Homo sapiens: one gene and its partners. The protein of the gene in region 2 purifies or fractionates together with the protein of the main gene of each other region. This does not show direct contact. Each region holds a gene or a part of one and is shown on either strand. Other genes may lie near its edges.

Region 1 (2,970 bases), on a different chromosome or scaffold from region 2:
TCCTGAGTCCCTGGCTGGGGACTCCATCTTCTGCTCGATGCCTCTCTTCTCTCTCTCTCTCCTCTCCCTTCACTTTCTTCCCATCCCCACCACCCACAGGCTCGCCAGAGCTAAAGACAGCGGAAATAGAGCCCAAGGCAGATGGCAGCTGGAGGGAAGGAGACGAAGTCACACTCATCTGCTCTGCCCGCGGCCATCCAGACCCCAAACTCAGCTGGAGCCAATTGGGGGGCAGCGTAAGGGACCTTCCTCTCCACCCTGAGCCCCCTCTCACTCATCCAAGTATCACACCCTCCTTTCCACTTCCTGGGAGACTGGACGTCGTTCACCTCTGCCCTTGACCCCACCCCTTGACCCCACCAGCCGGGGCCTGATCGGAGCCTCCATAGCCCGCAGAGCCAATCCCCGGACGGCAGGGTTGGGTGAGCAGCTCTCTGACCCTGAAAGTGACCAGCGCCCTGAGCCGCGATGGCATCTCCTGTGAAGCCTCCAACCCCCACGGGAACAAGCGCCATGTCTTCCACTTCGGCACCGGTGAGTGACTGAGGTGGTGGCAGAGGAGCCGGGTGTGGGGCAGACAGAGCCCACTGCCTGACCCACGCCTCTCTCCATCCTGTCCCTGCAGTGAGCCCCCAGACCTCCCAGGCTGGAGTGGCCGTCATGGCCGTGGCCGTCAGCGTGGGCCTCCTGCTCCTCGTCGTTGCTGTCTTCTACTGCGTGAGACGCAAAGGGGGCCCCTGCTGCCGCCAGCGGCGGGAGAAGGGGGCTCCGTGAGTGGCCTGCTATCTGCAATGACCACCATAGCTTAACCCCATCCCCACCCTCAACCCCAAGCTCAACCCATAACCTCAACCACATCTTATCCTCCACCCCACATCCCACCACATCCACCTCCATCCCCAACCCATCCTCATCCCCAACTACAGCCCCAAACCCAGCCCCAGACTAATCCACAGCCATCCCCAACTCATCCTCATCCCCAACTGCAGCCCCAAACCCAACCCAGGGCCATCCCCAAACCCATCCCCAAGCCAAACTCAACACCATCCCCTTCCCTAATCACCTCTCCTGCCCCTAGCTCAGCCTCATCCCCAACTCCATGCCTGTCTCCAATCCCAACCCTGCCCCCAATCTCCCCTCAACTCCAATCCATAACCCCCTTCAAACCATCCTCAACTAAGCTCCTCTCCAGCCCTGGCCACATCCCCATCCTCCCCCAACCTCCAGCCCCAACACCCATCATCCCCCTGAGCTCACCCTTAACTCCAATTTATCCTCCAAGCCTATCTCTCACCATCCAGCCCTCACCTAGCCATTTCCCAACCCTAGTCCTCCACCGTCCCGAAGCCAACTTCACCCATGTCCCCATCCCCAATCTTGTCCCCATTCCTGACTCCAAATCCAACCCCTAAGCCTCCCCAAGCTCCTCCTCATCTAACCTTGTCTCCAGCCCCAACCACATGGCCGTCCTCACCTCCAATCCGTAACCATCCCAGACCGATCCCAAAGCCAACTCCAGCTACATTCCCACCTCCAACCCCAATAGCATCTGCATCCCCATGCCCAACCCTAACCCCAGTGCCATTACCAGCCCCTACCCCATCCCTATGCCATCCCCACCCAGCACACCCCCATCCTCACCTCCATCCCCAGCCGCATCCTAGTCCCACCCACCCCCATCCTCAGTTCCTCCCCCTGCCGTGTGCACCTCCAACACGACGCCTCCGCCCGCTGCCTCCTCCCCCCAGGCCGCCAGGGGAGCCAGGGCTGAGCCACTCGGGGTCGGAGCAACCAGAGCAGACCGGCCTTCTCATGGGAGGTGCCTCCGGAGGAGCCAGGGGTGGCAGCGGGGGCTTCGGAGACGAGGTGGGTGAGGGCCTGGGCCCCCTGGTGAGAGGGACCTGCTGGGCAGTGGAGCACGCCCGTGGGCACAGGCTGACCTCTCCATCCGCTCCCCAGTGCTGAGCCAAGAACCTCCTAGAGGCTGTCCCTGGACCTGGAGCTGCAGGCATCAGAGAACCAGCCCTGCTCACGCCATGCCCGCCCCCGCCTTCCCTCTTCCCTCTTCCCTCTCCCTGCCCAGCCCTCCCTTCCTTCCTCTGCCGGCAAGGCAGGGACCCACAGTGGCTGCCTGCCTCCGGGAGGGAAGGAGAGGGAGGGTGGGTGGGTGGGAGGGGGCCTTCCTCCAGGGAATGTGACTCTCCCAGGCCCCAGAATAGCTCCTGGACCCAAGCCCAAGGCCCAGCCTGGGACAAGGCTCCGAGGGTCGGCTGGCCGGAGCTATTTTTACCTCCCGCCTCCCCTGCTGGTCCCCCCACCTGACGTCTTGCTGCAGAGTCTGACACTGGATTCCCCCCCCTCACCCCGCCCCTGGTCCCACTCCTGCCCCCGCCCTACCTCCGCCCCACCCCATCATCTGTGGACACTGGAGTCTGGAATAAATGCTGTTTGTCACATCAACACCATCCTGTGGCCAGAGCTTCCTCTGGGAGTAGGGAGGGGAAGGGCGATGCAGGTGATTCCCTGCTCTCAGCTGCCCCCCCATCCGCCCCCTTGCAAGACCTCAGAAGACGCCTGATGTCATGGAGAAAGAAATGAGACAGGGCTGGGCGCCGTGGTTCATTCTTGTAATCCCAGTGGTGGTGGCTCACGCCCGTAATCCCAGCACTTTAAGAGGCTGACACTGGAGGGTGGCTTCAGGCCAGGAGTTCAAGACCAGCCTGGGCAACATATGGAGACCCCATCGCTACAAATAATAATACTAATAATACAGAAATTAGCCAGGTGTGCCTATAGTCCCAGCTATTCAGGAGGCTAAGGTGGGAGGATTCCTTGAGCCCAGGAATACGAGGTTACAGTGAGCTATGATCACGCCATTGCACTCCAGCCTGGGTGACAAAGCGAGACTTCATCTCTAAAAAAAAAGAAGAAAACAAAAAGAGGCCAAGCTCAGTGGCTCAAACCTGTAAT
Region 2 (3,751 bases):
AGCTCTATCGTTTAATTGGTGCTGAAGTGAGCAGCTGCCAGCCCGATTTTCCATTACGGACTAATATTGTGCGTTTGCAACAATAAACAATTAATGTGGTTTGATTTCTTACATTTAGCAACCCAAGCAAACAGCTGCCATCTCCGCTGGTGGAGGCAAACGGCTAGTCCTTGACATGCCGCCGGCTCCGTGCCTGCGGGGGAAGGGTCAACCGCAAGGAAACTTTGAGGATTCTGCCAGACTGGGTGGGGGAAGGCTCTGGTGTTTGGGAGGAATAAGCGGAGGAAATTGTGGATACCTGTTGGCATCAGCGTTGGCGGCAGCACGTTTTTTTACCGTTTCCCAGCCTTGGCTGGATCCTGGGAGAACCGGAGTAGGTCCCTTATGAACCTCTTACGTACTGGCAGAACCTAGGCAAGAGCCTTTTTCCCTCCGATCCTGCGAGGGGCGCGACCAGCCCCTCAAAGGTTCCCGGATGAGAAGCGGCCAGACCACAGAAAGCGCAGGTCTGGGCTCAGCTGTCCCTAGGAGAGCGGCTACGGAGTCCCCGGCTTAAGGGGGCCTCCGTGCACGCAATCTCGAGTTGCGGGGAGACACTGCCTGGGGGTCCTGCAGGGGTGCTGGGCAGCGTCTTGGCGAGGGCAGAGCCGCAGGGCGACTCCGGAGCCCGGCAAGTTTGTAGCGGGCACCGCACCTCCCAGAGCTGGAGCTGCCACTTGTGGGAAAGCCTCGCGCTGGGGCTTTCGCAGCTGAGCCTTGGCCCGCAGCCCTGCCGCGGGGGTCGCCCTCCCTCGCCTCGGAGATGAGGCGGTGCAGAAAACCAGCCATAGACCACTCGGGCCCCCTCGCCTCCTTTTTTCCCTGGCTTGCACCCTCCGCACAGCGGGCTGCAGGTGCTTCCCATTCACCGCACGGACCCCGCAGTGAAGGCGCGCGGCTGCAGCCGCGCCTGCCTGCGTTGGGAAGCGGCGAAATAGCCAAGTCGCCGCAGGGAAGGAAACCGGCAGGAAAACTGGAGGGGCACAGCCTGGAGCTTGCTACTCTCTAGGATCTGTTGTCAAAGCAGTTTGCAAAAACAGTCAGGCAAAACCTTGAGGCGTACGTACGTTATCACCCACGGATATCGCGAAAGACACAGCTTAGCCCAGAGCCTATGCTAAGAACCCTCATCCACCATCTGAGGGGCAGGAGGCGCGCAAGGTGTCCGAAGGGGCATGGGAATTCCTATAAGAAACGGTCCCTTCTGGATAGTCGGAACATAGAGGAAAACGGGGGTGGGTTAGGGGAACACTTACTCTTGTGGGGCCCTGCGCTGGCGAATGTCAAGCCTCCAGGTTCACAAATGGCTGGAGGTGCTCGGGGTTAGCTCCCGAGGGCGGCAAGCGCCGACCGGTCCTCGCTCGCTAGGCAGGCGCCTCCGGATTCCGTTCATGCCTCTCGGAGCTACAGGGCTTGGTGCGGAGACGCAGGGCGGGCGCGCTGGGCTCTGGGTGTCCGCAACCCAAAGTGCAGCTGGTGTCTTGACGCTACCGTCTATGCACAAGCCGGCGGCGGCGGCGGAGCTTGGAGGAGGCAGGGAGATTCCAAATAAATCCACTAATTCTGGGCTGAGCGCTCCGGCGTGCGAGCCCGCCTGCCTGCCAAATGTAACTGTGAAGTGATGTGGAAAAGTGAGCCGGGTGCCTCCCCTGACGGATCTCATTGGGCAGAGCGCAGAGGCAGGTCTACCACTTGGAAATTCATGTAAGCAGTCCCCCCTCCCCGCCCCCTCCCCGCCTTCCCCCTTCGCTCTCCCGCGCTGGCTCGATCGCTCTCTTTCCCCCTACCCAAGTGGGCGCACAACTTTTCGCTCCTCGCTCCCGAGCAAGCCCCGCGCGTCTCTGCCGCCAGAGCCACGAGGTGAAGATGCGCCCTTCCGCGCGGTGCGCGCAGCCCGCTGAGGACCGAGCTCCTGGATAAGTGGGCTGGCAGATAATAACAGCATGCGGATGAGGTACCTGCGAGCTTTCTCTCTAGAGGTCTCACCTGAGCTCTGGGGCTGGCGTTATGTTGAAAAGCGTCTCAGTGACCCGCAGCTATTTTCCGTAGGAGGAAGAGGACGCGACAGGGCAAAGGGTTGAGCGTGGGCAGCTTACCTCCTCTTTATTCCAAGGGCCTCTTGCGTACAGAATAGGGTGATTGTGAGACCCCTGCCTGCAACTCAGACGCTATGTAGAGGCTGTGTGTCGCGGTTCTGTGATGGAGCGCATTCCTGATGTCCCCGTGCTCCTTTGGGAAAATGGGATGAGGGACAGCAGAGTGGCAGCCAGGAGGGGCGCGCAGTAGTTGGTTGTGGGGAGGAGGGCAGGCAAAGCAGAACTTGCTTGGGAAATAGGGGAGGAATTTCTAGGTCTTCTCAATGTGCCCTGATCTTGTCATATCCTCTCAGATACCATCCTTGCGGTTCTCCTGCCTCCACCAAGACCTGCCCTGTCTGTGGTCACTTCAAGTCTTCTGATGGGCTGCGCTCAGATCTTGAGAAATGGCCACCCTGGGGTAAAAGGGACCATGAATCAGGAGGTCCAGATTTCTTTTCTTTTTCAACACTGGGGCTAACATGTAGACGATGCCACAGTCATCATCTTCTAATAAAATTAGATAAATATAAGACAAATAAATTCTTACCTTAAAAAAAAAAACCCTCCCCTCCACAGGAGATCCCGATTTAGTCCCTTCCCTGTGTGCACTAGACGTGAGCCTGAGGGTGGATTTTACCATCTGGGGACAGAGCAAGAACAGAAGGGGGAAAAAGGTGCAGGGGACAAGACGCACAGTCTGTAGAGCTTGTACTGTCTCACTCAAATTAATGAGAAAGAGTGAACAGAATGAGAAAATAGGCACAACATGCTTATGATATTTATGCAAATTTGACATTTTTTTGTGTGCTGCATCTGACAACCCATTGTGAAATGTGAAAAAGAGTATTGGCTGTAGCTCTAATATCTGATTGTTTCATGTTCTAGCTGTCATAGGCAAGAAACTTAGTGGATTATTTCAGAGAGGGAGAGGTGAAGAGAACCAAGTGGTATTTTTTTTCCCCCAGGCAGTCACTAAGTAACTGTTTGTTCTCTTCTCAGACTGTGTCTGCTTACAGGGTATTGGAATTGGCTAATTCTGTCTTGGAAAAAGGAGCAGCAGTCAAGGCTCAATCAAATTATAACTGCTGCTAGACCAGACAGTCCCAAGTGGACAAAGAAATAGATCACATTTTGGGTTGTGCTTAATTTCAGATATTCATTTTCACTTGAACAAATAATTTGAACCGTTCCTTGGGGTAACTTCTTACATCTATGAAAACTCAAAAAAACTCATGTGCTACTGAAAGCTGGGGATTGTCACAAGTAACAAACTTGTCTCAAAAAAAAAAAAAAAAGCCAGATTGTTAGACAATATCCTCAAATCTCATTTTCTTAACAAACTATGCTGACATAGTAAAGATAGTCAGAATCCAATGGCTTTTAAAGAGAGCCAGAATCCAATGGCTTTGGGTATCTAGGGTTAAGAAGAGTTTGCTTTGACTCATCTTGTCCATATTTACTCTTACAGCAGTTATATACATTGTCTTCCCTGAATTTTGGTCCTCTGGAATTCAGGGTAACCTGTCTATACCTGCTAATATCTGCTCAAAGCGTTACAATAGGAATTTCCTGACTAATTCTTAAGAGAGGTTTGGATGATTAAGCAGTGTGATAGAGGATTAGGATAATGTTAG
Region 3 (3,751 bases), on a different chromosome or scaffold from region 2:
CTCCAGCCTGGGCGACAGAGCAAGACTCTGTCTAAAAAAAAAAAAAAAAAAAAAAAAAAGGATGATGTCCACAAATCATACAAATCATTCTGTTTATCTTCCTCCCACTGACACTTCACTTTACTAAAGTTATCCATTCTCATACTACCGTTGTTTTGAACCTCACCCACACAACTCTCCAATATTACCTATTACTAATTTTTTCCCATTAAAAAAATTTAAAAGTTAGCTTTACCCACTCAGGAAGCCCATATATTCTGTAATGCAAGCACCTACATCTACCACAGATTCTCAGGTTTTAAGAGACCTTCGGACGGGCATGGTGGCTCACGCCTGTAATCCCAGCACTTTGGAAGGCCGAGGTGGGTGGATCATTTGAGGTCAGGAGTTCGAGACCAGCCTGGCCAATATGGTGAAACCCCCTCCTCTACTAAAAATACAAAAATCAGCCGGGCGTGGTGGCGGGCACCTGTAGTCCCAGCTACTCGGGAGGCTGAGGCAGGAGAATTGCTTGAACCCGGGAGGCAGAGGTTGCAGCAAGCAAAGATTGCACTACTACACTCTAGCCTGGGAGACAGAGCAAGACTCCGTCTCAAAAAAAAAAAAAAAGACCTTCAAGGGCATTAGTTCAACAAACGAAATTTGAGTTCTTTGAAGCATCCATTCTAATAGCAAACACAAGACATTACTAGGAGCTCTGCATTACTCTATAAAGTTCACATACATTAAATAACTTAAGTGTCACAACAATCTATAAGATGGTTAATATTATCCCCATTTTACAGACAAGGAGGCCAAGGCAGAGAGAGATTAAGCAATTTGCCCTAGGTTACATGTTTCCTCCGTGGCAGTCTAGCTCCCCATCCATACTCTTAATCATTATGTTATGCTGCCTTGCCTCACCATATTATGGAAGTCTCAGATTGGAAATTCCCTTTTTGGTTAGCATATTTACCAAAAAATATAGAATAAAGCATTTGTGGCAACATGTTAACAAATGATACCTAGGCAAATGAAGAGTATACCAGTTACTGTGCTAGAGCAACTTTCCTGCAAGTTTGAAATAAAAAGTTGAGAAGTGCTTTTGTCATCACATCACATCAACCAACCTGGGACATGTTTTGTGAAAGTCATGACCAAATTACCTACTGCTGACCAGCAAGGAAGGCTTTAAGATAAAATTCTGGCCGGGCGCAGTGGCTCAAGACTGTAATCTGGGAGGCCAAGGCAGGCGGATCATGAAGTCAGGAGTTTGAGACCAACCTGGCAAAAATGGTAAAACCCATCCCTACTAAATATACAAAAAATTAGCAGGGCGTGGTGGCGCGCACCTGTAGTCCCAGCTACTTGGGAGGCTGAGGCAGGAGAATCGCTTGAAACCGGGAGGCGGAGGTTGCAGTGAGCTGAGATCGTGCCACTGCACTCCAGCCTGGACAACAGAGCAAGACTCCATCTCAAAAAAAAAAAAAAAGATAAGAAAATTCTTTGCCTCTTTATAATTCCCCCACTATATGCCTGATCTAAATTGTCCACACCACACCAATCAAACTGAAGGGCTCACTGGAGAAGAAGTGGCCCTAAAAACAGGGAACACGATCCCTGAATAAAGTGGTAAATTCAGGCCCCATTCTCAATGCTTAATATTTAATAATAACATGCAATTCCAAGTAGAATTAGGGAAAAAAATTACTTCCGAAAAATACATTAAACAATTAAATACAAATCAATCCATACCCTAATTTCCCCCTCATTAGTTCTAACCAGAACAGTTGTTCTTGCCTTCTTACAATCTCCCTGCCAGGCTACATCAATGCTCTATTGGAAACCTTGGAGGCAGCTGCATAATTTAGGCAGAGCAATCCCTACTTCAGCTTTGTGTGTCATTTAACCCTTCTTTGAGGGAAGAGAACATGAAAGAATATTTGTACTTATTCACATCCTTATTACCTACAGTTCACTCCTGTAGGCAAGTTCCTTGTTAATACCTTTTAAATTACCCAAGAAAACTAATTTCGGTTCTTAAACTCATAAGCTTCCCAATACATGAACAAAATCTAAAGTTTTGTGGCTAAAACAGTGATTTAAAAAATACACTGATATCCAAACATACTTTCTTTGAAACACTGATGTTCAAAACTATCATCCCAAGCTCTTAACGTTTTTATTAACAAGCACAGAAACCATTCACCTCCAACCAGGGCTGAAAGCAGTACTTTTCTGCTGATGTCTTAATATACTCTCCCCTAGAAAATGGCAACATTTAAGGTTTTCAGTGTTGAAGTTCATTATGAAATGAACGGACTAGGATACTTATTATTTATTTATTTATTATTATTATTTTTTGAGATAGGATCTGGCTCTGCAAGCCCAGTCTGGAGGGCAGTGGCATGATCTCGGCTTGCTGCAACCAGTAGCTAGGACTACGGGTACATGCCACCACGCCCAGCTAATTTTTGTATTTTTTGTAAAGAGGAGTCTTCACCATGTTGCCCAGCGATCCACCCACCTGGACCTCCCAAACTGCCGGGATCACAGGCGTGAGCCACCGCACCAGGCCAGATCCTTACTTTTTATACTATTCTTTGTACCACTTGCCAAGAAAGGAACAGGATTAAAGAAAAGCTAAAATTTTAAATCCTCCATTATCTCTAGAAACTTTGCTTAAAAATATAAGGGAGGGCCAGGTGTGGTGGGGCACACCTATAATCCCAGCACTTTAGGAGGCCGAGGTAGGAGGATGGCTTGAGCCCAGGTGTTTGAGACCAGCCTGGACTACATAGAGAGACCCCATCTCCACAAAAATACACAAAAATTAGCCAAGCATAGTGGTGTGCACCCATAGTCCTAGCTACTCAGAAGACTGAGGTGGGAGCACCACTTGAGCCCAGGAGTTTGAGGCTGCAGTGAGCCATGATTTCACCACTGCACTCCAGCCTGGATGACAAGAGCAAGACCCTGTCTCAAAAAAAAAAAAAAAAAAAAAAATTAAGGGAGGAGACGCATAAAAGGTTAAAACTACAGACTACAGTAAAAGTTGCAAAAGTACATTGCAATTTGATTAATCTATGTTGTTTTGCTTCCTTTCAAGCCTTCCCCACAAATCAGTCCCTCACTGATTCTCATCAAATGCCTTATTTAACCAAGGCTTACTGAGCACCTCAGTATGTACCAAACACTAAGACAGGTGCTAAAAAGATACAGAGATAAGACAGTACCTACACCCAAGCTGCTCATAGTCTAGAGGGAAAGACAAGAATATCTGAACTACCTCCTACAAGCCTGTCCCTGCAAGTTGATGATATCCTATCATTCCAAACCACATACCTAACAAATTCTCTGGAAGAAGAAATTTTACTGATAAACAACGTGTGACACAATTCCAGGAAGTTTAAGAAATTAGGACAGCAATGGTGGGCATATGGATATGGAAAGATTCTCGTTCTAAAGATTAAAATAATATCCATTCTAGCACATCCAGCTCCCCATGGGCTCTATGGAAAATAGATCTTTTGCATACATTATCCCAACAAGGGTAGTGGGGAGTTGGAGGGAGTTGGAAATTTAAGTGAGTACTGCCCCTGTGCCAAGATGAAACACTCCTGCCTCTAGCAAGGGCTCGTTTTAGTTCGAGCTGTTGTTTCCATTCTCTCTGGAGAATGGCAGTATATTAGTGGTTAAGTCCATGGACTTTGTAGTTAGTCAGACCAGGGTTAATCCTGGCCTCAACCATTTACAGGCAGTGAGATTTTCA

The links.
Region 1: the proteins of CDH8 (region 2) and BCAM purify together in Homo sapiens (co-immunoprecipitation; 3 studies listed by BioGRID and IntAct, with this or other methods). This does not show direct contact.
Region 3: the proteins of CDH8 (region 2) and CTNND1 purify together in Homo sapiens (co-immunoprecipitation; 3 studies listed by BioGRID and IntAct, with this or other methods). This does not show direct contact.

The regions. Positions count from the first base shown.
Region 1 is NC_000019.10:44,818,957-44,821,926, forward strand, and holds the end of BCAM (basal cell adhesion molecule isoform 1 precursor), read left to right. Parts: intron 1-99; coding exon 100-236; intron 237-389; coding exon 390-534; intron 535-625; coding exon 626-770; coding exon of another isoform or gene 771-774; exon of another isoform or gene 775-1,748; coding exon 1,749-1,866; intron 1,867-1,959; coding exon 1,960-1,965; 3' UTR 1,966-2,465; downstream 2,466-2,970. UniProt on the Homo sapiens protein: Transmembrane glycoprotein that functions as both a receptor and an adhesion molecule playing a crucial role in cell adhesion, motility, migration and invasion.
Region 2 is NC_000016.10:62,034,785-62,038,535, forward strand, and holds the start of CDH8 (cadherin-8 isoform 1 preproprotein), read right to left. Parts: upstream 1,655-3,751; 5' UTR 1,296-1,654; intron 403-1,295; exon of another isoform or gene 299-402; intron 1-298. UniProt on the Homo sapiens protein: Cadherins are calcium-dependent cell adhesion proteins. They preferentially interact with themselves in a homophilic manner in connecting cells; cadherins may thus contribute to the sorting of heterogeneous cell types.
Region 3 is NC_000011.10:57,764,695-57,768,445, reverse strand, and holds part of CTNND1 (catenin delta-1), read right to left. Parts: intron 1-3,751. UniProt on the Homo sapiens protein: Key regulator of cell-cell adhesion that associates with and regulates the cell adhesion properties of both C-, E- and N-cadherins, being critical for their surface stability.